Linked DNA regions of Homo sapiens. The protein of the gene in region 6 interacts with the protein of the main gene of each other region in a biochemical or structural test. Each region holds a gene or a part of one and is shown on either strand. Other genes may lie near its edges. The genes, in order: CARD14, SYNPO2L, PREX2, INTU, PPP1R9A, DGKK and PDZD8.

Region 1 (3,500 bases), on a different chromosome or scaffold from region 6:
CACATCTGTGAATACACTAGAAGCATCTTAAACGGGTGAATTGTGTGCCGTATGGGTTATAGCTCTTCCTTTTTTTTTTTTTTTTTTTTTGAGACAAGGTCTTGCTCTGTTGCTCAGGCTGGAGTGCAATGGTGCAATCTCAGCTCACGGCAACATCCGTCTTCTGGGCTTAAGTGATCCTCTACCTTAGCCTCCGGAGTATCTGGGAATACAGATATGTGCCCCCATGCCAGGCTCATTTTTTTTGTTGTTGTTGTTTTTTGTAAAGAAGGGGGTCTCACTATGTTGCCTGGGCTGGTCTCAAACTCCTAGGCTCAAGTGATCCTCCCCCCTCAGCCTCCGAAAGTGCTAGGATTATAGGTGTGAGCCACTGTGTTTGGCCGTGAGTTATATTTCAACAAAGTTGTTTAAAAAAAAAAAAAAAGATCCAGGCTTGGTGCAGTGGCTCATGCCTGTAATTTGGAAGGCAGAGGCAGGAGGATCGCTTGAGCCCAGGAGTTCAAGACTAGCCTAGCAACATAGCACGATCCCGTTTTTAAAAAAAAAAAAAAAAAAAAAAAAAAAAAAAAAAAAAAAACGATCCGAGAGCAGCTGGCAATCCCACCCTGCCTCCTGCTTCCCTCTCTCATCCCTGCCAGGAAGCAGGAGGAGGGTGGGCTGAGGAGGTCCCTGCAGTGCCCGGTTCTGCCCCTGCCACCCCAGGGCCAGGGCTGGGGGTCCACAGTGCGTGGGACACCGGCACCCACTTTCCTTTCTCTTCGTTTTCAGCCTAGGCTGGGCCCCCATCCCAGCCAGGCCCTGCCTGTTCAGCGTCCCCACCACAAGCGGGGTTCCTCTCTTGCCAGCTCCTGTTCTCTGCCTGGAGGTGTCGGGCAGGAGCACGTGCTCTGGGCGTTTCCCTGCCAGCCTCCTCCCTTCCATCCCCTTGGCTTCCTCATTCCAGAATCCCTGTTCACCTCAGCTGACCCTGTGACCCCCTAGGAATGTCTCTGGCTCCTGCAGAGGCGTCTGGGCTTCCCCTCACGCCTTCTTAGAGGACAACCAGTGGGCGCAGTCGCTCTGTCACGTCAAAGTCTCCAGATCAAACCCAACAAAGGATCAGGGCAGCCTCCTGTACCTCCCTCCCCAGCTCCTGGTGAAATGAACCAAATGTTGCGTTTTAAAAAGTTAAAAAAATAAATAAGTGAATAAAGCAGCAACCACAAAATGAGGAAAGGAAAACAACTTTTCTGCCACAAACTGAAAAATAGCAGGCCGGGCATGGTGGCTCACACCTGCAATCCCAGAACTTTGGGAGGCTGAGGCAGGCAGATCGCTTGAGCCCAGGAGTTCAAGACCAGCCTGGGTGACATGGCGAAACCCTGTCTCTACAAAAAATACAAAAATTAGCCGGGCATGGTAGCGTGAGCCTGTGGTCCCCAAGCTACTTGGGAGGCTGAGGTGGAAGGATCACTTGAGCCCGGGAGGCAGAGGTTGCAGTGAAATGAGATTGCATCACTGCACTCCAGCCTGGATGACAGACTGAGACCCTGTCTTAAAAAAAAAAAAGAAAGAAAGAAAAAAGAAAAATGGCAGACAAGCCCTGAAACCAAAGGAGTGCTGCCAAGGGGCACTGGGGGCACAGGTGCCAGCGCAACCCTTAGGGACAGACTGCGGGAAGAGAGGGCTTCAGCATCCCTCTACTGTTTGGGCAGCTGAAGAGAAGTCTAGGGAAGTCAGAGAAAACGCCCCAGAGCTGCCTCCAGCTTCCCTGGGAGTCCTCAGCAGGAGTGGGGAGGGGGCTGTACTGAGCCAGGAGAGAACCCAGGCCCGGCTGTCCTTCTCAGCGCAGGGCAACCACTGGATTTCTTTAATCACACATCCAGGACTAAACTACGGTGGGAATAGAGTCTTCCAGCCAAATAAGAAGATTCTTTACCCTAAGAAATAATGCAAGCAGTAGAAATCGGGGTAGGGGGTAGGGGAAGGAAGGCATCACTTTATCTTCCATGACCCTGTGCTATCTAAAATAAAGGAAGTCCAGGCGACGTGGCTCACGCCTGTAATCCCAGCACTTTGGGAGGCAGAGACGGGCAGGTCGCCTGAGGTCAGGAGTTCCAGACCAGTCTGGCCAACATGGCAAAACCCTGTCTCTACTAAAAATACAAATATTAGCTGGGTGTGGTGGTACATGCCTGTAATCCCAACTACTTGGGAGGCTGAGGCAGGAGAATCGCTTAAACCCGGGAGGCAGAGGCTGCAGTGAGCTGAGATTACGCCACTGCACTCCAGCCAGGGAGACAGACCGAGACTCCATCTCAAATAAATTAATAAAATAAAACAAAACGCTGATTTTATTTTATTGTATTTTCCGTTTTGTGGAGAATGGGGTCTTGCTATGTTGGCCAGGCTCTCAAACTCCTGGGCTCAAGCACTCCTCCCGCCTCTGCCTCCCTAAGTGCAATGATTACAGGTCTGAGCCACCAAACCCAGCACTGTTGATTTTACATAATGTCACTAATTTATCAAGGTTTTTGTAATCTCTTATCTGAATCTTGGGGATTTTTTAGGAACTAATAGTTCTTGTCATTGTGAAACTGTTCTACTACATTTGGCATTCCATTATTATTTTTAACAATTAAAAAATATTTTTTGGCTGGGCGCGATGGTTCACGCCTGTAATCCCAGCACTTTGGGAGGCCGAGGTGGGCAGATCATAAGGTCAGGAGTTCGAGACCAGTCTGGCCAACATAGTGAAACCCCATCTGTACTAAAATACAAAAAATTAGGCAGGTGTGGTGGTGTGTGCCTGTAATCCCAGCTACTTGGGAAGCTGAGGCAGGAGAATCACTTGAACCTGGGAGGCAGAGGTTGCAGTGAGCCGAGATTGTGCCATTGCACTCCAGCCAGGGTGACAGTGCGAGACTCCATCTAAAAAAAAAAAAATGCCGAATCTGGATGCACTGCCTATGAGTTAGCCCAGCTCCTCAAGGAGCAGTACATAAAAAATAAAAATAATAAAAAAAAACTTTTGCCAGCAACATCTGAGCTGAACTAAAATTTAAGTAAAATTAAAAGTTTACATTTCAATCATGTAGAATATGATACCATTTTTATAAAATGGTGTTAGTTTATCTCTGGGAGTCCCTCAATCTATGTGCCCATCCATCCATTCATCCAATCTGCCGATCAGTCTGTCCTGTCATTCCGCGCGCGCGCGCGCGCGTGTGTGTGTGTGTGTGTGTGTGTGTGCATGAGAGAGAAAGAGAGGGGGAGAGAAATGGAGAGGCAGAGAGCAGAGGGATTCTGGAACACTCCTCACCAATGCTAATGCTTGCTGTTCATGGTGGTAGATTGTAAAGAAATCTGTTTAGGCCTGGTGCGGTGGCTCACGCCTGCAATCCAGCACTTTCAGAGGCTGAGGCAGGCAGATCACTTGAGGTCAGAGTTCGAGACCAGCCTGCCAACATGGTGAAACCCCATTTCTACTAGAAATAGAAAAATTAGCCGGCTGTGGTGGT
Region 2 (3,500 bases), on a different chromosome or scaffold from region 6:
AACTGTAGGCGTACTTTCTCCTATTTACTTTTCTCTCTCATTCACATATACCCCAGCTTACATACAGCTCCATTCACATACACTTATGTAAATACACATGTGTGCACATCAAAACACCATCACTCAAATACATTCACACACCTACATGCTCTAGGTGGCCCTTCTTCCCAGAGACCTCCCTGCAGAGACCCTGTTACTAACAGTTTAGACAGAAGTTAAAGTTGATCTCGGCCTTCCAACTGCCAGGGCAGTCCTCTGGGCTTCACACCCCTGCTACTCACAGTCAGGGGTAGTCTCCATCCAAGATGCAGGAAAAGTTAGAGTGTTGTTCTCCAAGGCAACACTCCAAATCTTTAGGATACCTCAAGGTCGCCAGCTAAATATATTATTTACCCCAAGCTGGGGATGGTAGTGGGGTGGGCTTCTTCAGGGGTCAGAACTGTCTCTACGTAGAGAGCTCAGGCAGCCACTGCCAGCCAGGCACACAAAGACTATGTGCTAAAGGGAACCAGGGCAGGGCTTTCCATGCCATGTGGGGCCTGGGTAGGTGGGGCCAGGAAATGGGAGGGCTACCCTGCTGCGAGGACCCCGCCTTGCACATGGATACTCTCTGGTCCATGGTCCCCAGTTCCTCCTGAAAAATTATTGAGATTCCATCTACTTTCCACTCAAGGTACCATGCTCCTTTGTAATGAGCTCCTTTGTAATGAGCTTTGTAATGAGCTCCTTTGTAATGAGCGTGGTATCTTGAGTGGAAAGTAGATGGAACTTTTTCATTTTTGTCATTCCTCTCATCCCAGTGTTTATACCACAGAATAGTGGTATGGATGAGACAACAGGCCCTAGAGTCAGAGTTCAGTTCAGGTTTTTGGTTTCTGGGATAGTTACCTCACCTCATTAAAGTTCGGTTTCCTCATCTGTAAATGAGGGTAGACAATGGCTACCTCATAGGATTGCTATAAGGATTAACTGAGATAATATAGTAAATTTAGCACTTAACACAGTGTGAAGGCCCACTATAACCATTACTATTGAAGTCTTCTTGACACTATACTTTCTTGATATATATGGATACTTTCTTGTTCACACATATCTTCTCCCATGACTCACACATACATGCCTTCATGTATTCATAATGTACTCACACACGCTCTGTTCCCATGAGTTTTCTACAGCTCTTGTGGTCAGAAACCCCTTTGACATGTGACCACAGCATCACTGAGAAAGGGGCAGTGAAACTCTCCTGAGAAAAGGAGGAAGAGGACAGCAAAAAGGAACAAGAGAGTAAGACCTTTCCCAAAGACTACCCTTCCTAAACTATTGACATCTTCCCCTCCATTCTAGACCCCAGACTCTCATAGATATGGGAGGGTAGTACCTGCATAGAACGAGTCTTGGAGCTCAGGAACTGGGTCTGGGGCTTTGTCATAGCTGGCTTGGCTGAGGGGCTCTTGGCTGATGGGCTCAAAGGTCTCCATGCTGAGAAAGGCGGTGTTGGCTGGAGCAGGACCAGCTTGAGCCACCCCCCACGCCTTTTAAAGCCCCTTTGTCTTGTCCCCAGAGCTGGCAGCTGAATGAGCTCACTGTGCTATTTTTGGAGCCTGGCCCTCTCCCTTCTCTGGGCTGCCCCACAAGTGCCGGTGTGATGGATGTGGGCACCTGCCTTCCCTTCCCCCAACCCCACCCCAGTAGACAATGAGGTCTGCTTGACTAAAAATATCTCTGAGCCAGTAGCTACAGTCTCATCCAGCATTATGGGAAGGGAGGGGGAGATAAGTGGAGAATTGAGGAAAGCATAGGATCCTAGGCACGCATCTGGAATTCCTGGGATATTGGACACTCAGGGATGTCAGACTCTCAACTCTCATGTCCTTAGCCTCCACTCCAAACTGAGAGACACAAAGTTCTATAGATCAGGAATCAAAATGGTGGAGGAGAGGGAAGAAATATAACTAGAGGGGGAATCATGAGATTTTGGAGGTAACAAGAACGGTCTCTGTGGGAAAGCACGGGAGGCATAGAGCAGGGAGAACGTTTACCCTTAGACCTTGTTCTGTAGCTCACATCAAAAATAGCAAAGCCTGAGATAAGTGGAATGGGCTTTTTCTGCCCAGGCCAACATTCTTGCCTGAGATAAGGAGCCAAAGCTCCCTCCCTCTGCCACTTCCTCGGGATCTCATGATCATCCCATAGCCTCTCAGTCCCCAGGAATCCGAACTGAACTTGCAAATGTCAAAGGTGCCTGCTATTAATACTATAAAGAATCCTTTGGCCAATGGCTCACGCCTGCAATCCCAGCACTTTGGGAGGCCGAGGCGGGTGGATCACAAGGTCAGGAGTTCGAGACCAGCCTGGCCAACATAGTGAAACGCCGTCTCTACTAAAAATACAAAAAATTAGCCAGGTGTAGTGGCGGGCACCTGTAATCCCAGCTACTCGGGAGGCTGAGGCAGGAGAATTGCTTGAACCCAGGAGGTGGAGGGTGCAGTGAACCAAGATTGCACTCCAGCCCGGGTGACAGTGCAAGACTCTATCTCAAAAAAAAAAAAAAAAAAAAAAAACCAGAAAAAAAAAAGAACCCCTGTAGCTTTGACCCACTTTTATTTATTAATTTTTATTATTTATTTATTTATTTATTTTTAAGACAGGGTCTTGGTCTGTTGCTCACGCTGGAGTGCAGTGGCGCAAACATGGCTCACTGCAGCCCAAACCTCTCAGGCTCAAGCAATCCTCTTGCCTCAGCCTCCCAAGTAGCTGGGACCATAGACATGTGCCACAGTGTTTGGCTAATTTTAAAATTTTTACTGGAGACGAAGTCTCACGATGTTGTCCAGGCTGGTCTCAAACTCCTGGCTTCTGCCGGGCATGGTGGCTCACGCCTGTAATCCCAGCACTTTGGGAGGCCGAGGTAGGCATATCACCTGAGGTCAGGAGTTCGAGACCAGCCTGACCAGTATGGTGAAACCCCATCTCTACTAAAAATACAAAAAATTAGCCAGGTGTGGTGGCGGGTGCCTATAATCCCAGCTACTCGGGAGGCAGAGGCTGGAGAATCGCTTGAACCCGGGAGGCGGAGGTTGCAATGAGCCAAGATCACGCCATTGCATTCCAGCCTAGGCACAAGAGCCAAACTCCATCTCAAAAAAACAAAAAACAAAACAAAACAAAAATCCTGCGTTCATGCTATCCTCCCACCTCAGCCTCCCAAAGTGCTTGGATTACAGGTATGAGCCACCTTGCCCCGCCTTCAACCTGCTTTTAAATACTCCCCTGTCCTGTGTCTGTACTCTGCTTTCACCCAATCATGACACACAATAACAATTATCACCACCACCAAACCCTTCATCTATTTGTGTCCCTTTCCAATTTCCCTACTTACCCTGTTCCTGGGTTGAACTGAATCACCTTACCCTTTTGCCACATTGGTTCAAACAGCAAAAATAATGGTGGCCATGAGAATAATTATGCTCCCCTTCTACTCATTACCCCTCCTGTCCCCA
Region 3 (3,500 bases), on a different chromosome or scaffold from region 6:
ACCTGAACTCAGCACTGATCAAATGGTCCTGATAGACATCTACAGATATCTCTATCCCAATACAACAGAATATACATTCTTCCCATCACCACATGGCACATACACTAAAATCGATGACATAATCAGACATAAAACGCTTCTCAGCAAATGCAAAAGAAGTGAAATCATAACAACCACTCTCTCAGACAATAACACAATCAAATTAGAAATAAAGATTAAGAAATTCACTCAAAACCATACAATTACATGGATATTGAATAACCTGCCCTTGAATAACTTTTGGATAAATAGTAAAATTAACGCAGAAGCCAAGAAGTTCTTTGAATCTAATGAGAGCATTAGAAATTTCTATCTGAAAGATAAAATTGTTCAAAACAAAAAAGTGGGGGAGATGATTTAAGGATTTCTCCATTCCTAGCCAATATGCATTTACCTTAAAACAAATATAAAATCTCAAAGATGATGAGAACAACTGCAGAATTATAGTTTCTAGTAGTGTCATAATACTGGCATCTATTCAGCAGAAATGTCTTTTACTCAGTAAAGTATATACTTAAATTTCTAAAACATAATAGTTTTTCAAAAATGCATTTAACATTTATGCTATTCATATTTTGGGGAATTTTAAATTCAGACTTTTCATTAAATATTATGTTATAAAGTATCACAGATAAACATTACATTAGGCCATAAAATAAAAATATAGCCAAGAAAACCAGCTGTCAAATACACGATTTTATCGCAAGATAGAATCACTATGATTTATTTGGGGAAGTATTCCATATCTGTACAAATTTCCTTTCTACTAATCTCTAAACATAAGTTGTTATATTTGAGTATAAGTCTATGCAGAAGACTTAGTAATCACAGAACATTTAAGCCATCTCTGTCATTTAATAAATGTGGAAGTTGAAGCCTAAAAGAGTTAAGTGACTAACTCAGACTCCATTTGATATAAGGGGTTGTCTTTTGTCAGCAAAATTTACAGCTCTCTTTAATTTACCCCACTTAAGGTAATAACTGCAGTTACACTGTAATTCTGTTAAATACCATTGAATACTATTGACCACAACCAACTGACAAACAAATGACTGAAGAATAAAAATGTAAACACAGGAATAGTATTTATTGTGTGGGTTTCTCGACCTTAGCACTATTAACATTTTGTATCAGAGAATTCTTCCTTGTAAGGAACTGTCTCATACATTCTAGAATGTTCAGCAGCATCCCTGGCCTCTATCTAGAGGTCAGTAGCACACCCACAATTGTGACAACCAATACCTCCAGATGTTGCCAACCACTGTTCTAATCACTGGGAAGAAAATTTCTGAGTTATATATTTTTACAACTAGGTGAATTCTCATTTTATCTTTTCCACCATAATCATTTTTGAAACTCTCAGAATTTTCACTTAATCACACTGATTCTAAACAACATGCAATCTATCTCAATGAAGTCGTCTCAAAGTCATATATCTCCAATTTACAGGTTTTACCAATTATAGAATGTCATGTAAATAATGTTATGGTAGTTAATAGCAATCAACTTAGACAAACACTTCTGATATAAAAACTTAAAAATCAATGATGCAACCTATGTGATTATTTTGATTCTCATACAGCTTCACAACTGATTTTTTTTTTGTGGATAAACTTTTGCTTCATGCCTTTTTGTAAATCCTTCAGAATTTGTTTATGATATTGTCTCCTTTTATAGAGTCTTAAATTCTCTTCACGTTCTATTTGTCTTCATAACTTTGAGCCCTTATTTTATTCACTGAGAATATTCTCCATGATGTTTATAACCTTGGGACACAAGACCCTATAATCTTATTCCTTCTTGCCCTCTTCCTCCCTCACCATTTTCAGTACTTTTATTTTCTTCACAAAAGGAAACACTGCAAAAAATAATCAGGCATTACCAAACTTTTGGTTTTAGTGGGTTTTAAATTGATTATTGCTAATATCATGCAATGTTCTTTGCTTTTCATGCTGACCTTCAACAAATTTCCTGATGTTCTGAGCAAGAGTCCGGACGCTGCTGGGAAGATTCCAAGGATCTTGCTTGATATGAAGCCGTAGCCTTTTTGGACAACTCAGCTTTGGTTCCATTTCCTGTTGAAATTCTAAATAAACACAGAAAATCTCTCTTAAGTCTCAAATAATTCCTAAACAATGAAGCCTTTAGGCTTCAAAACCTTCTTCTGTCACTGTTGTCCTAGACTATTGACATGGTGGTCATTTCTTTTGCCACACCATCAGAAAATCCGTTAAATGTAAAAAGTCAAACCTTCATGTTATTTTCTTATAAATGTTTAAACGAAGCAAATTTAGATGAAAACTCTACTTTCATTATCCCAAACTAGTTACTTGTCAGAGTGGCAGCTCCATCCTTTCCATTCATCAACTCTCATTCCCCACACCCTTTCCTCACCACTGGGAAACAGCCAAGAAGACATTACGCTTGGTTTCAGCAAAATCAACTTCATGTTTATGTATCTTCAATTAACTTATTTTTGCTCAGCCTGGCCCCTATAGGCATTAAACATTTTAAACTTTCAAAGAAACAGACATGTAAAAATTCCTATGCTGACTTTTTTACATATTCAAAAATTATCAGAATAGAAGTAGTGTTTGGTGAATTATGAAACATGAGTAACTGGAATTGTTCCTCTTATGCAATCTGCTTGCTTCATGACTATATTGTCTACCACCTTGTTTTTCTCAATTGCTTCTACTAGTTAATTTTTCAAGGCTTACCTTGCAATCCTCGGCCTGGAGTGAGATACTTGGTTTGGTCAAAGGCCCTCACAACAGCCTGCCCTTTTAGGAGATTGGTAATTGAATCCACCTATCAATAGTAGAGATTTCCGAGTTACATATTTCTCATAGTACATGATACGTATTTCTAAAAGTAAATCTTATAAAATATTTTTTCTTAAAGCAACAATTATTTTTGAAACCCCATGATGCTTGTGAAATCGATCTTTACATAAAATATTGAAATAAATGCACCTGATAACATTTGCAATGACATTTCTTACTATCTTACCATATATTAACACAAAATATAAATTTACTGTATAAGTTATTGGAATCCTTTTCAAAGTGGTAAAATCTTCTACTACAAATTTTGGTTATGGCTATAAATTTTGTTAATGTAAAACAACAAAATTAGCATCCAAGGCAATATCTTGTGCTTTTTAAAATTAGAAATAATATTGAGCAAGAAATATCATAAAGCTTTCTGAAAACAAAAAAACAAAAAAAAATACTAAAAAGGGTAACTCCTATGTGTATAACAGTAATTTTCCCAGGACTGTAAAATACTTGATATTCACAAAAATCCTTTAGGTTAGTTGGCTGAAGGAATGTTGATTCCTAGTTTAAATGTCAGAAATTGAGGTAAAGGAGGTGGAAGGACAGATTGAGGCCTTTCTGTTCTAACTCTGAGCTCCTTTTACTGCATATGAAAAAGGGACTCCTCACAGTTTAGTTGTG
Region 4 (3,500 bases), on a different chromosome or scaffold from region 6:
ACAGATTTTAGTTCATGGTGAAGTGAATGTTTCTTTTTTGAAAACTTATGTAAAAGTCTGTTAAAGCTGGCTTTAGCTTTCATTTTAACCTGACAGCCATCCTAAATAATTTCTATGCAAATAATAGATTTTCATGTACAATTTCCAAATGGCATGCTTGTGTGGATATAATTGCATAATCAACTGCTAATGCAAATTATCATTCAGTGAAATTGTTTAAAGTGAGCAGTAACCACACAGTGGTTGATTTAATTTTTTTCAACTCATAGATTCTATAAGGGGACCATCTCTTTTTTCATTGGTTTTCCTTTCTATTGCTATGCCTTTTTGATTCCTTCTCCCCCAACTCCTATTCAAAGCTCTACAAAAAAAGCATCCTATATGAAATAATGTTGAGGATCACAATAAATTAGAAATAGTAAGGATAATTTGAAATAATAAAGAAGTTTCACCCTTTCCCATCTTCCTGCTCCCCAGCCCCAACCCTCACCCCCATGCCAGGATGACATACCTTTCTTTTATATATTGGGCTGCTATTAAGATTATCTTTTCTCTCTTTCATAGTGATCTTGAGCCTGAATGGCTGGACAGTGTGCAGAAAAATGGAGAGCTGTTTTATTTGGAATTGAGTGAGGATGAAGAAGAAAGCCTCCTTCCTGAGACACCAACTGTGAACCATGTCAGGTTCAGTGAAAATGAGATTATCATTGAAGATGACTACAAAGAAAGAAAAAAGTATGAACCCAAACTCAAGCAGTTTACCAAAATTTTAAGAAGGAAAAGACTTTTACCCAAGCGCTGCAATAAAAAAAATAGCAATGACAATGGACCAGTATCCATTCTAAAGCATCAGTCCAATCAGAAGACAGGAGTCATTGTCCAACAGCGATACAAAGATGTGAATGTTTATGTAAACCCCAAAAAGCTAACTGTTATCAAAGCCAAAGAGCAGCTCAAGCTTCTGGAAGTGCTGGTTGGAATTATTCATCAGACCAAGTGGAGCTGGAGAAGAACCGGAAAGCAGGGTGATGGAGAGAGGCTTGTGGTTCATGGCCTGCTGCCAGGGGGATCTGCTATGAAGAGCGGTCAGGTACTCATTGGTAAGTGTTGCTGGTACACATCCATCCCTGTTTACAGAGATCTTGATTAATGATGACACCTTGCGGGAAATGTGATAAAAACAATTATATACAGTCTCCACAGATAAAGAACTGATTAATGACATTTGGTACAGTAGAGAAATGGTTACACATGGTGCACTACAAGGCACAGTGTTCTTAAAATGACCAGTTCAGTGTGTTGAGTATGTGTGTGCCTTGTTCAGGCCAAGAAATAGCTTACCTAATTTTCAAGTTTTGAATTATATAATTTTATTTCATCTTGGTTATATTTGCTGACAAGAAAAAAAACGTTGATCATAGAGTGATAATTTAGGTTTGAATGGCTATATCCAGTAACAGGATACAAAAATATATAATTTATGAATAAAAATACTTTTAAATTGTATGTTTGCACTTGAGTACACTAAGTTCTTGGAGTGGTTTTCAACTGTTTCATTTGGCATATTTTGCAACAGTGGTGTTATATATAAATTTCCTTTTAAGGGCGTGTGTCATAAAATATATCTGTCATAAAATAGCCCACCAATTTTCAAGAAAAATAAACCCACAAATTATTCTGAATATATATTAAGATGAACATTTTGTGTTGCTGATAAATTTTAAGCTGTTAGATACAATGTTTGAGTTAGTAGCAATCTAATTACTTAAAGATAAATGAGTAAAATTTGAGGATATATTATTACTAAAATTTAAAAGTAATAACAGTTCTAAAAGCTGACAGTCTTTTAAGTTTATCTAGCATAAGAGGTTTAAATGAAGAACATTTACAGATAAATTTACAAATATTTCCAACTTTAAATCTGAATTTCATTTGTTTGTTCACTGATTTGACAGTTTGTTTTTTTAGCATCTGCTAAGTGCCAGGAATACAAAGATTACTTTACTGATCCAATTATTTCTTGAAAGGAGCTATGTTTTAGTGGAAGAGACGGGTTACAGATAGGCAGGCAGCTCCTCACTGTCTGATAAGTGTCATCATAGGGGTTTACAAGGAGGATCATATGGAATCTTGTAAGAAGGGCATCTGTGGCAAAGTATGTGTTCCAGAATGATCTCAACAGGATCTGCACACTTTCTTAAAATGTAGTGTTGATACTCCTCCCATGGAGAGTTGTGCTCTGTGTCATTGAATCTGGGTGGGCCGGTGACTACAGCTTAATTGGTGCCATGTGACTTAAGAGGTTGGATCATAAAAGGTGATGCAGCTTCTGCCTGGTTATTTTGGGGATACTTGCCCTTAGAACCCAGTCACCATTGTGTGAAGAGGTCAAGACACCAGTGATCCAGCTGATAGCCCCAACTGAAGCCCTCGCCACCAGATGTGAGTGAGAAGCCTTTAAGATGACTCCAGCCCCAACCACCATCTGCCTGTAACTGCATGAGGAATCCCAAGTGAGAACCACAGCTGACCCCAGTTAACCCCAGAACCAGGAGAGATGATAAATTATTGTTGTTGTTATTTTTTTATTTTTTATTTTATTTATTTATTTATTTATTTTTGAGATGGAGTTTTGCTGTTGTCACTCAGGCTAGAGTGCAATGGCACCATCTTGGCTCACTTCAACCTCTACCTCCCGGGTTCAAGCGATTCTTCTGCCTCAGCCTCCTGAGTAGTTGGGATTACTGGCACCCACCACCATGCCTGACTAATTTTTTTGTATTTTTTAGTAGAGATGGAGTTTCACCATGTTGGTCAGGCTGGTCTTGAACTCCTGACCTCAGGTGATCCACCCGCCTCAGCCTCACAAAGTGCTGGGATTACAGGCGTGAGCCACCGTGCCTGGCCAACTGTTGTTGTTTTAAGCCTCAGAATTATTTGGATAGGCCTGGCGTGGTGGCTAACACTTGTAATCCCAGCACTTTGGGAGGCCAAGGTGGGCAGATCACTTGAGGCCAGGAGTTTGAGACCAGCCTGGCCAACATGGCAAGACCCCGTGTCTACTAAAAAATACAAAACTTAGCTGGGCCTTGTGGTGCATGCCTGTAATCTCAGCTGCTGGGGAGGCTGGGGCACGAGAATCACTTGAACCTGGGAGGCAGAGGTTGCAATGAGCCAAGATTGTACCACCGCACTCCAGCCTGGGGGAACACAGTGAGACTCTGTCTCAAAAAAAAAAAAAAAAATTGTTTGGATGACTTATTATGCAACAATAGATGACTGGAACAGGGGCTAATACATACTTACATTCTCTTGGGTCCTCTACTTTCCTTCTTGTGAAATGATAGGATAGAACTAAATATCTCTATGGTTTGTTCTTTTAGTTCTGTAAAAGGAGCCAGAATTCATTTAACGTGCCCCCCTTTCAGTGGTGTTTCCTGTGAGTTGGTAGTTAGATCTTGAGGCCTATCAAACATATTTTATAGGTGGTCTGTGTGCTT
Region 5 (3,500 bases), on a different chromosome or scaffold from region 6:
TCTCTGTTAATGACATCACTTTACCCGCTATTCCCTCCTTACCTACCCTTTTTTTCCCTTAAGTGCTTTGATGGCTATTCTAATTGTACTTCCTTGGATAGGTTTTGTTTACCAACCTCAGCTGGACGCAATCTCTCTCTCTTCTGAGCGTTGATATAATTGTACTCTATCTATACTTGCAGAGGCCCAATGCTTTTAATAAGCAATAAATCCTGTAAAGCTTTAAAAAAGCCAGTTTCTATTTACTAGACATTAATTCAATGAATATTTTTGAACACATCTTCTGGGTCAAATAATGTGTTATTAACCACACAAAAAATTAGAATAATAATCTCTAGTAATTGTGAGTAGAAAATTGATAGTGTTCAATTTACTTTATTTAATCTTGACTGAACAAAGGCCCAGTGCTATGTAAGCCTCGGGACCAAAACTTTAGTATTAGGTTGTTTATATAACAGGAACGAGGAAAATATTTTCATGCCTTCTACTGGCATATAACCTGTTTTACAAATCTCTAGAAAAAAATCTTTTACTTCCTCTAATTTGATATTCCGTTAGATGCTTATCATTTAGCCAGTTATAATGGGACTTCTCCATCCTAATTTCCACTGATGTCCCTCAGATATGAAAAAAAATGATTTGTAAATGTGGTATTGACACAATTCAGAAAATCGCCAACTCCTGTTAGGGTAACCAGAGCCTTATCCTCAAGCCTGCAATCAAACATGGCTGTAATTAATCATCTTTGTGGTAACTTGATAGACCAAAAGTAAAGGTATAACACTTTTTAAAAATTCTAGATAAATGGCAACCAATGATGAAGCCATTTTCAGAGTTTATCCAGCAATTTTGAGTATAAGAAAATATACTTCTAGACCAGGCATCAGGAAGCTTTCTTTACCTTTCAGGGGCCACAGAGTAAAATATTTTAGGTTTGTGAGATACACAGTCTCTGTCACAACGACTCAACACTGCTACTGTAGCATGAAAATAGATAGTATGTAAGTAAAAAAGTGTGACTGTACTCCCATAAGACTTCATTTACAAAAGCAGGTGGAGACTACATTCGGTTGATTATCCCTCTTCTAGAAGATCTGCACTGGTTACGTGGAGAGGTATATTAGCAATTCATCCAAGAACATTATTAAGTATCAATTATATGCCTGTGTTACTTTGATCTTCGTCTTTTTTTCCTATATGACTACGTTAGTGTTTACTGAAACTCTGGGCTGCTATTCTACAAAATCGCTCTATATTTTTCTATATGACTATGTAGTGTTTTTTTCTTTATGACTGTGTTAGTGTTTGTTGAAACTCTGGGCTGCCCCACTCCCCTGAAGAACTCCCTTGAGTAGTAAACTTATAGAGAGCTGAAGAGATAAAAATACTGAACCAGATAGGAAAAGATAAAACTAAATTAAAGTAAAATACATGGAGGGGTTGTTTCTCTTATTCTATAATATAAAAAGAAATTAATATTAATTATTAGCTATGAGAAAACAAATGACTTATGATTATGAGAAAAAGTCATTTTTATACTGTACAAGCTGAGGTGTTATGAAGTCAGAAAAAGAAATTAACAATACCTTTTTCTCGTAATATTTTCTTGTTGGTGGTTTGGTGATGGCAAGGAGATTCTTCCACATCATGATCAGACTTTGAAGTAGAAAACAGTGAAGTGTCTCCCCACATAGAGGAGAGAGGCCCCATTTCTGGGTCCAGTGGTTCTTCTTGAAATTCAGCTATGTGGTCAGACGAGAAGGGCACATTGCTATCCACCGGGGTGAGGGGTGGAACACCAGAATCTGATTCTGGAGAAGACGTTCTCAAACCCTTAGGTGGAAGTAATTTGGTAATATGCATGTGGTTATAGAAACTGTTTGATGGCTGTTGGTATAAGAGATTATAAGGAAGGTTATGCCACTGAGTATCAGTTCTATGCAATACTTACTTTGAAATAAGACCAACCTTTTATTAGTGAATCCCCATGAAAACCAGTTTTTGTTGATTTACAGATGAGAATGCATGGTTCATACCAATTCACCATATTAACATCGTCACTAATACATATACCTAAGACCTACAGAAACAATTACTTGTACGTTCATTATTTCCCACTAAGTAAAACCAATAGCTGAATATCAAAAGCACCATCATGAAATATGACAATACAGATAATGCTCTTGGTTAGTTCACTGAATGAATAGACAAAATATTTTGAATTACAACAATATAAAGAATTCAGGAGACAAAGACGTGAACTATTCTAGCTGCTTACCAACTAGGACATAGACTCTGTTTGCAGAAAAATCATAATCTTCAATAAGCTGTAGGAACAATGATATACTCCAACAGTACAAATCAGGAAACGGTCAAGGGTGCTCACCTTTCTCTCTAGACTGTCCTCCCCATCTGTGGAACTAACACTATCATACAGTCTTGTCCTAGAGGGTCTCTGGCGTCTGTTCTTCACAGAGAGCTGGGCTCGAGTTTTCAGTGCTTTTGAATCCAGGCGCTCTGTCTCTGGGACTGCTTCATTCAAGTCTAAGAATATTGAAAGATAATCAGTGAGAGAAACCTTTGGAGAGAACTGATGAAGAGACCACAGACACTGATAAAATCTCAAGGTAACCAGTAACATCAGGTAAGGATCAGGTGACCACCATGACAGCCTGTAACCAAGAAATAACCAAGAAATCAGTGGGGCTTAGGAGAAATATACAAAGTCAAAGGAAGAAACCAACACTAAAGATGATGAAGGCGCTATAAAAATCCAACATCCGAAAAGCATACAACCTTCCTGCAATATAATTATAAAAATCACTAATTTGTATTTACTATTTATGTGTATGCATGTTGGGAAGTTAGATGACCAAAGATATAGAGGAGGGTATATCAAAAGTTGACAGATCTTAGAAACCAAGGACAAAAAACCTACAAAGTCAGGTTTCCAGTTCAACTACAGGCAACAGAAGGTAACTATCATAAATTTACTGTAGCAAAATTTACTAGCAGTCTTCAGGTACTATATCATTTTCATTTTAATATATAATTTTCAACCCAAAACAGTTTCTGAAAATCTACCTTGTTCCTTTTTGAAACCTGTAGAAAGACCAGTGAGGAATTTACCTAATCAGCAAATTGACGATAGCTGGGGAAAAGAAACAAGGTCTGGCTACACAAATGAAGAAACAAACAGTTAAAAAATCGTAAGTACTTAGTTTACTAGTATTGTGGATGAGGTAGGATAAACATTTCCTTTTCTTTCATTAACATCTAACTTTGTATTACAAGTTATTTGTATGTGCCTCTGACTCATCTCTGTGAATACCTTCTCTCCCCACCAGAAACGACACTGATTTTCGAAGGGTAAATACTTAAGTCTTTAAATAAAAAGGCTAAAAGAAAAAGAGAGTAAAGTGGGACACAAAGAAAATGAACTATTAACAGCAAAGGCCACAGAGAGAATTCAATTAGTCCTCTTTAGCCTGGCTCTTACC
Region 6 (3,500 bases):
GTAGCAAGCAGAAATGGAAAATTTATTTATTGATAGGATACTGAGGCTTCAAAGGGGCCCAGGAACCCATTTCTTCAAGTGTTTGCATTGGATATCAGTTACATTAACCGCTGTCCAGTTGCCATTTAGCATGACTCCTCTCTGTAAGAAGGCATTTGAGAAGTAAGATGGTTTTCCTTCCTGTCTTTTTCCACCATTTATCTATATATCATTCACCCTCTGCTTTCTTAATGCTTACCTCCATGTAGTAGCCGCCTTAAGAACAAGATGTGGTATGGCCTTCTGGGAACCAAAGAACTTTTGCAGCGCTCTTACAGGAAACTGGAAGAACGAGTGCATTTGGAGGTTAGTGGAAAAGCGGGTAGTCTTTCCTGGGTATGGAGAAAGGAAATCTCATGGCCTTGGGAATACCGTACATGCTGATTCTTCCTGAGCTTTAACTCTGTGATCCTCACAGCTCATGGGAGGAAGGCATGAAGATAGATTTCCATGTAATGGAAGAGAAGACAGAGCCCTTTCCCCATCTCTGTAAATGTTCCTTCATGTTGCTATCTAAAGATCCAGCTAATGAGAGCTACTCTTTTCTTTCAGTGTGATGGAGAAACCATCTCCTTGCCAAACCTGCAAGGCATTGTAGTGCTCAACATTACCAGCTATGCTGGAGGTATCAACTTCTGGGGAAGCAACACAGCAACCACGGTTAGTATGGAACAAGGAATGGGGAGGAAGAAAGGCATGATCCCACTAAGGTCTCTCTGAAGGAAGCATTGTGCTAACTGAAGTGAAAAATAGACAATGGGAGAAGAGGAGGTGGTCCGAGAACCTTTATTAGCAGCAGCTGTATGATCAGTTTTTCAGGCAATTACCATCCGAAAGCAGAAAATTCAACCAAAGACCTCAGGATAAGGTCAACTCGTAGGTGTTGCCTGGGCTTTGGATTTTCCATTCCTCGGGTCTGACAGATCCTTTAAAGGCTATCTAGACCATGCTTTTTTTTTTTTTTTTTTTTTGAAACGGAGTCTTGCTCTGTCATCCAGGCTGGAGTGGCAAGATCTCAGCTCACTGCAACCTCCGCCTCCCAGGTTCAAGTGATTCTCCTGCCTCAGCCTCCCGAGTAGCTGGGATTACAGGCGCCAGCCACCATGCCCGGCTAATTTTTGTATTTTTAGTAGAGACAGGGTTTCGCCATGTTGACCAGGCTTGTTGACCTTGAACTTTTGGCCTCAGGTGATCCACCCACCTTGGCCTCCCAAAGTGCTGGGATTACAGGTGTGAGCCACTGCGCCCGGCCAAGGCCATGCTCTTTTCTCCAAGGAATTCTGTCAGTAAAATCTCCTGGGATGCTGACCATGACCCCTTTACTCTGAGTTTACCCAAGAAGGTCATAAGGCCAATAAGACTGGCCTCAGGTATTTATGATGCTGGATTGGAAAAGGAGGGAACTGGCTAAGAGTGCAGTACCCTTTTCCCAGATTGGCTTTCTGACCTCATCTTTTTCCCTTTTAATAATGAAGTGTTTCCACTCTTCATGAGCTAGAAAAATTCTCACCAGGAGCCTTTAAACATGCCTTCTTGTTATAGACAGGGTGTGATTTCTCAAGGGTGGGAGATGTGACACAGTTCTTCCTCCTCAGGAATATGAGGCTCCTGCAATCGATGATGGGAAACTGGAGGTGGTGGCAATCTTTGGTTCTGTGCAGATGGCAATGTCCCGTATCATCAACCTGCATCATCATCGCATTGCCCAGGTAGGCAGGGGCTGGGTGGGCACTGGGAAGGGGCTGAGGTTTTTGACTGCTACCCAGGATGTGGGATAGTCCCAGGAATTAACTGGGTAGAAGAATGCCAGGGTGGAGTGAGCAGGTTATCTGGTGGGCAGTAAAGTGCTGACTGAGGTTGGAGGCAGAGGTGGCAGAAGCCAATGGAGCAAAAAGCCCATAGGAAACAGGCATTTCTTCCTGGGATGATCTGATTCACATCCTTTCCAGTCCTGCTTCAGATACACATTCAAGGCCATAACTATGAGATTATCAGATAGAGTTACAGCAGTTGCCCCATTTTTCTCTCCCATTCTTCCTCATTTTCTCTGGCAGTGCCATGAGGTGATGATAACCATTGATGGTGAAGAAGGTATCCCAGTGCAGGTGGATGGGGAGGCCTGGATTCAGAGACCAGGCCTTATCAAAATTAGATACAAGAACGCTGCCCAGATGCTGACAAGAGATCGGGTAAGGGGGAAAATCTTGTCTTGGGCTCCTATACTGCCTCATCCATAGTCACTTGAGTACTGAATATTTCCACTCAAGCAGAATTCCTCAAAAGGAGGTCTGTGTGCCCCTGGCATCAGAGTCACTTGAGATGCTGGTTATAAATGCATTCTTGGGCCCCCACACCAGACCCACTGAACCACATAGGGTTGCATAGTTCCCAGGAACCCAAATTTGCAAACAGGCTCCTCAAGACACTCTGATATATACTGACATTTGCAAACACTGTCCAAGAGAGTGAGACAAGGAGCTTCCTCCCCTGGTTTTCGACAAGGTTATCCTCCTCTTTCCACTGCAAAGAGAGCTAAAAGCGTCAGATGATTATGGAAAAATCTTCTCCTTCAGCAACAGATTCTGCATTGAACATGGTCTTTAGGTGTCTCTAAGGTTCCTTAAAATGCTGCATTAATACATGTCATCCACTTCAGCTAAAGCTTCTAAAGCTTATAAAGGAGCTATTATTGATCACATATTCAATGCTTGGAGGTTATCTTGCACTCTAACCTGTGAAAAGTCCATGGAAACAGCAATAGAGAAAGGAAGAGAAGTCCAGTTTATAAACTGCCTATTCTGTGCTAGGCATTTTACATTTCTCTCATGTAGGTTCTCTCCACAATCTTATGAGGTGGATACACTTATTCCCATTTTACAGATGAGGAAAATGAGGACCAGAGAGGTTAAATAATTTGCTAATGGTCACACAACTAGTAAATGACAGAAACACGATTCAAAATTAAATTAGATATGTTTGGCTCTAAACTGCATCACCACATATTGCCTACATTTGGCAAAGAAGGGAGCATGAAAGGTGCTCCACTGTCTTGTCAGTCATGATGCCTTCATATGGGAGCTTCTAGAAACCAGACATGTGTATGATCCAAGCCTGGTGTCCCAAAATCCAGCATACTCAGAACAACAAAAACTAAAGGGCATAGTCCAGAAGAGATTGAATAAAATGATGGATACTTGTATAGGTATATAGATGGGTATGACAGGGGGAATGGACAGGGGGCCCTCCTTCCCCTCTACCCACTGTACCCACATACCCATTGCCCACAAACGTCAGGCTCACAGACAGATCTGTCATGTGCACTAGTAGCTACAGCAATCATTAGGATATGCCACTGTATTCATCTCCAGGACTTTGAGAACTCAATGAAAATGTGGGAATACAAGCATACTGAAATTCAAGCTGCCCCTCAACCCCAGCTGGACTTCCAGGACTCTCAAGAG
Region 7 (3,500 bases), on a different chromosome or scaffold from region 6:
TCGCTTGTGGTCGTGGTGGCACAGGTGGTTTGAAAGCAGATCCTTGGGTTGGTTTTGACACTTGTGCTGGGTCTGTTATCTCAGAAGTTTTTAGGGGTGGAGGTTTATTTCCATCTTTGGACTGAATTTTCGGTGGTAGTGGGTGACTTCCTACAGCTAATTTACGGTTTAAAACTGGTGATATAGCTCCAAGGGGTTTAATAGAAAGTGTTGTTGGAACACGTTTGGGACTATGACTTAATGATTGTGCCTCATCTTTGAACTCATTTTGTGCTCTGACATCACTTGCCAAGTCTTCAAATTCAGAATCCAGCTCTCTACTTTCAGTATCTACTGTCAACCCGGCAGCTTCCTCTTCATAACCCGATTGGCATGAGCTTGACAAAAAGTTTTCTTCCAACTGGCCAAAGTTATCTTGCAGCACTGCACCTTGATTACTCTGGCCAACAGGCCTTTCATAGTACACCAGGACTCGGTCACCAGCCTGCTTGATAAGCTTCAACACTTGCAGTGTTGATGTGATTTTCACACCTGGTTTAAGATTTTAAAAGGGAAAACATGTAAATTATTGCAATAGAAATTACTACATTTGTTAAATGTATTTAATTAAATATATATAATTGCCATTACCTCTGGTTATTTAACTAATAGAAGAATAATAGGAAAATCTCAACAATATTTTATTTGGCTTTTGGATGAATCAGTGTGCTAATTCTCAAACCCTGAATGTGCTGATATCCTGGAGATGTTTACCTTTTCAAACCAGATGATGACACAGGATCCCAAAAAGAGTGCCAGGATGCTAACTCCTAATTGCTTTCTATCTCTTCTTAGGTTAGATGACATCTCTCAGTTTGAACTGAAGAAGTGAACAGAGAGAGATCTATTTAAAGGATTCTATTAATGGCTAAATCAGACTTAGAGTGAGGGAAAGCTGTGATTCCACTGAAGGAAATTCTAAAATACTCCAGGGATTACAAGACATATGATGAAAGATTCAAATTAAGAGAGCAGTGCTTGAAAATAATGTAGCAAAATACTATACTATGAATAACGTACTTTTACAGATTCTTTTTATCAACCGTACCCATCACATTCATCTTTTTCAAAACCAGAAAGAACAAGTAAGGGATAAACTGCTTTAAAGTTAAACAAGCTGGTTACTATCTGCATCTGTAATATCTACGTTGTTTTTATTTTTCTTATTTTTTAATTGTTACACGTAGTTTAAAATTTGAAAGGTATAAAGGTATAAAAAGATGTACAGTAAAAAATATTCTTTCCACCTCTGTCTCCCAGCCATACTGTCCCTTCCCTGACCTTAGTAGCTTCTAGTGTATGCTTCTATAGATATTCTAGGTGTGTTAGCACTTAAAGGTGCTACTTGTTTCCTGTCACTCTTCCCACACTCTCTAAAACAGCACTTGCCCAAGCTATCCCTTTATGTAGAACTTAGAGAAAGAATGAGAAGGCTCTTTGTTTTCCAAAGATCTTAGGGCCATCCTAAATAAATCTAAGTAACACCACCCCTTTCTCATAACTTGACTTCAGGTTTCCTCAACCTGTGTCCTCTCTTACTTCAGCTGTCTGGGAAGATCAGGCTTTAGACTCGGTCATCACTTGGAACTTGTCCACATCAAAGATCTTTCATTTTCAATTAGTCTCTGATCACAAGCTCCTATTTTTCACCTCTTACAATCCTGTCTGCTCACTACTTTTAGGCAACTTCCCGGCCCAATCATTCCTCTTTTCTTCTCATGGTCCTGTTGGTCTCCTGATACCACTTGCTCTTCTATCCAACCCTGTGTCTCAAGATTACAACGATGTTCTTACCAATATTTTATTTTCTCGTCCTCATGTTTTTTGATCCCCAGCTTTACTAGCCCCACTATTGCCCTTTCCTGCTCTTGAGCTTGCCGCTTGGATCTAGCATCAAGTTAGCCATCCATCTTTGGCAAGGTGTTCAGGGCTGCTTAGCATTCTTTTGATCAGTCTGTAAACAACTAAGTCTCTCAAACATCAGCTGTAAATCTTTCCTGTTTCCCTAAAGTCTACTCTCCCTACTCTCTTTTACTCTGTGCATGCTATCACCTTATTTGCCAAAAAGATCAATATGAAGCTACCTTTTCTCCCTACCATCATTTTTAGTATTATCTTACTTCAGAGGAGAAAATATCCCTCTATCTGTATACTTACTTTGGATCCAATCCTCCTGTCTCCTTCCTGACTTTGCTCTATCAATTATCCTTAAACTTTTTCTTCCTTTTCTTTAAAATTTTTCTTTTTCTTAGTTTCCACAACACTTTACACAATTGGTTCTGATCACCTCTCCTCTAGCTTCTTTTTCTCCACCTATACCACCTGCACCTTATATGCAACTGTTACCAAAGTTTGCCACTAGTTCTCTCACCCTTTTTTGCTCTCTCCCTGGTAAATTACAGCCACTCCAGTAGTCTCAAAAACTATCAACTTTTTCTTTGGTTTCCCTTCTTCTTCACTTTAGTTCTACATTCCCAACTACTGGACATCACCACCTGGATGTTCCTTTGGGACTAAATATTCAGCAGAGCTAAAACCTTTCTTTGACTGTCTCTCTGTCCTCACTACTATCAATCAACTTGCCACTCCCAGTTAACTCAATTTGAATCCTAGGGATATTTGACTCCCTAGAAACATTCAGCTGTCAACTCAAACTTGTGATTTCAGCCCATTTTCCTTCCCTGTTCAGATCCTCCTGATAACTGGCCTTCACTTTAGTAATAAACAGCTTTTAACTGCAATCTCTCACTCAGACCTTCCCTACTTTAAACACCAAACATATTGCTACGAAATTTTCCTAAAGCATTTGCCCCTTTAGCCTACAAACTTATCACATGGAAATTCAGAGCTTTCTAATATGGTGCTTCATTATTTATCTAGCTTTAAGTTCTACTACGTCCTTCTAACCATACTATGTCTCAGCAAAATTATAGTTTGACATATGCATAAATGAAAAATTAGTCCATCTAATGATCTACAGTAGGCAAAAACTTCAACTCAATCTGAACTCATTTTTTATGACTAAAAATCTGCCCTCGTCTCATCTATTCCTCAGTCATCAGGTGTTTTGTGGAGATGGCCATTGCAACTCTCTCTCAGGAATACACCATTCAAGTCTGGATTTTTCTTTTGGAATATTTCAAACACACTCAAAAGCTGAGGAAACAGTAAAATGAATTCCATTTTGAGCTTCAAATATAATATTTTGCCAATCTTATTTCAACTATCATCAATTATATACCCATATAAATGAATCAAAGCGATATAAAAATGTTTTGAAAAATATCTGTTGACATGGGGAAAGTTTACAACATGCTAAAAGAAATAAAGACTATTACAAAAATGCATAGTTTAGAAATTTTTGTTTCCTAAACAAAAATTGGGAAAGGCATATATTTATGTACAGAAAAAAACAAACAAACAAAAAAACAAAAAAAGAGACATACAAAAGCTTTTCTGTT

Evidence for each region.
Region 1: the proteins of DGKK (region 6) and CARD14 interact in a test that uses a peptide from one of them, tested with the Homo sapiens proteins (one large-scale study listed by IntAct).
Region 2: the proteins of DGKK (region 6) and SYNPO2L interact in a test that uses a peptide from one of them, tested with the Homo sapiens proteins (one large-scale study listed by IntAct).
Region 3: the proteins of DGKK (region 6) and PREX2 interact in a test that uses a peptide from one of them, tested with the Homo sapiens proteins (one large-scale study listed by IntAct).
Region 4: the proteins of DGKK (region 6) and INTU interact in a test that uses a peptide from one of them, tested with the Homo sapiens proteins (one large-scale study listed by IntAct).
Region 5: the proteins of DGKK (region 6) and PPP1R9A interact in a test that uses a peptide from one of them, tested with the Homo sapiens proteins (one large-scale study listed by IntAct).
Region 7: the proteins of DGKK (region 6) and PDZD8 interact in a test that uses a peptide from one of them, tested with the Homo sapiens proteins (one large-scale study listed by IntAct).

What each region holds. Positions count from the first base shown.
Region 1 is NC_000017.11:80,173,030-80,176,529, reverse strand, and holds part of CARD14 (caspase recruitment domain-containing protein 14), read right to left. Parts: 5' UTR 3,302-3,500; intron 1-3,301. UniProt on the Homo sapiens protein: Acts as a scaffolding protein that can activate the inflammatory transcription factor NF-kappa-B and p38/JNK MAP kinase signaling pathways.
Region 2 is NC_000010.11:73,649,530-73,653,029, forward strand, and holds part of SYNPO2L (synaptopodin 2-like protein), read right to left. Parts: intron 1,512-3,500; exon of another isoform or gene 1,479-1,511; coding exon of another isoform or gene 1,379-1,478; intron 1-1,378. UniProt on the Homo sapiens protein: Actin-associated protein that may play a role in modulating actin-based shape.
Region 3 is NC_000008.11:68,119,546-68,123,045, reverse strand, and holds part of PREX2 (phosphatidylinositol 3,4,5-trisphosphate-dependent Rac exchanger 2 protein), read right to left. Parts: intron 2,851-3,500; coding exon 2,760-2,850; intron 2,126-2,759; coding exon 1,997-2,125; intron 1-1,996. UniProt on the Homo sapiens protein: Functions as a RAC1 guanine nucleotide exchange factor (GEF), activating Rac proteins by exchanging bound GDP for free GTP.
Region 4 is NC_000004.12:127,642,957-127,646,456, forward strand, and holds part of INTU (protein inturned), read left to right. Parts: intron 1-564; coding exon 565-1,100; intron 1,101-3,500. UniProt on the Homo sapiens protein: Plays a key role in ciliogenesis and embryonic development.
Region 5 is NC_000007.14:95,267,594-95,271,093, reverse strand, and holds part of PPP1R9A (neurabin-1), read right to left. Parts: intron 2,545-3,500; coding exon 2,387-2,544; intron 1,888-2,386; coding exon 1,587-1,887; intron 1-1,586. UniProt on the Homo sapiens protein: Binds to actin filaments (F-actin) and shows cross-linking activity. Binds along the sides of the F-actin. May be involved in neurite formation. Inhibits protein phosphatase 1-alpha activity.
Region 6 is NC_000023.11:50,376,826-50,380,325, reverse strand, and holds part of DGKK (diacylglycerol kinase kappa), read left to right. Parts: intron 1-248; coding exon 249-345; intron 346-591; coding exon 592-699; intron 700-1,634; coding exon 1,635-1,748; intron 1,749-2,093; coding exon 2,094-2,228; intron 2,229-3,407; coding exon 3,408-3,500. UniProt on the Homo sapiens protein: Diacylglycerol kinase that converts diacylglycerol/DAG into phosphatidic acid/phosphatidate/PA and regulates the respective levels of these two bioactive lipids.
Region 7 is NC_000010.11:117,284,941-117,288,440, forward strand, and holds part of PDZD8 (PDZ domain-containing protein 8), read right to left. Parts: intron 860-3,500; coding exon of another isoform or gene 831-859; exon of another isoform or gene 754-830; intron 532-753; coding exon 1-531. UniProt on the Homo sapiens protein: Molecular tethering protein that connects endoplasmic reticulum and mitochondria membranes. PDZD8-dependent endoplasmic reticulum-mitochondria membrane tethering is essential for endoplasmic reticulum-mitochondria Ca(2+) transfer.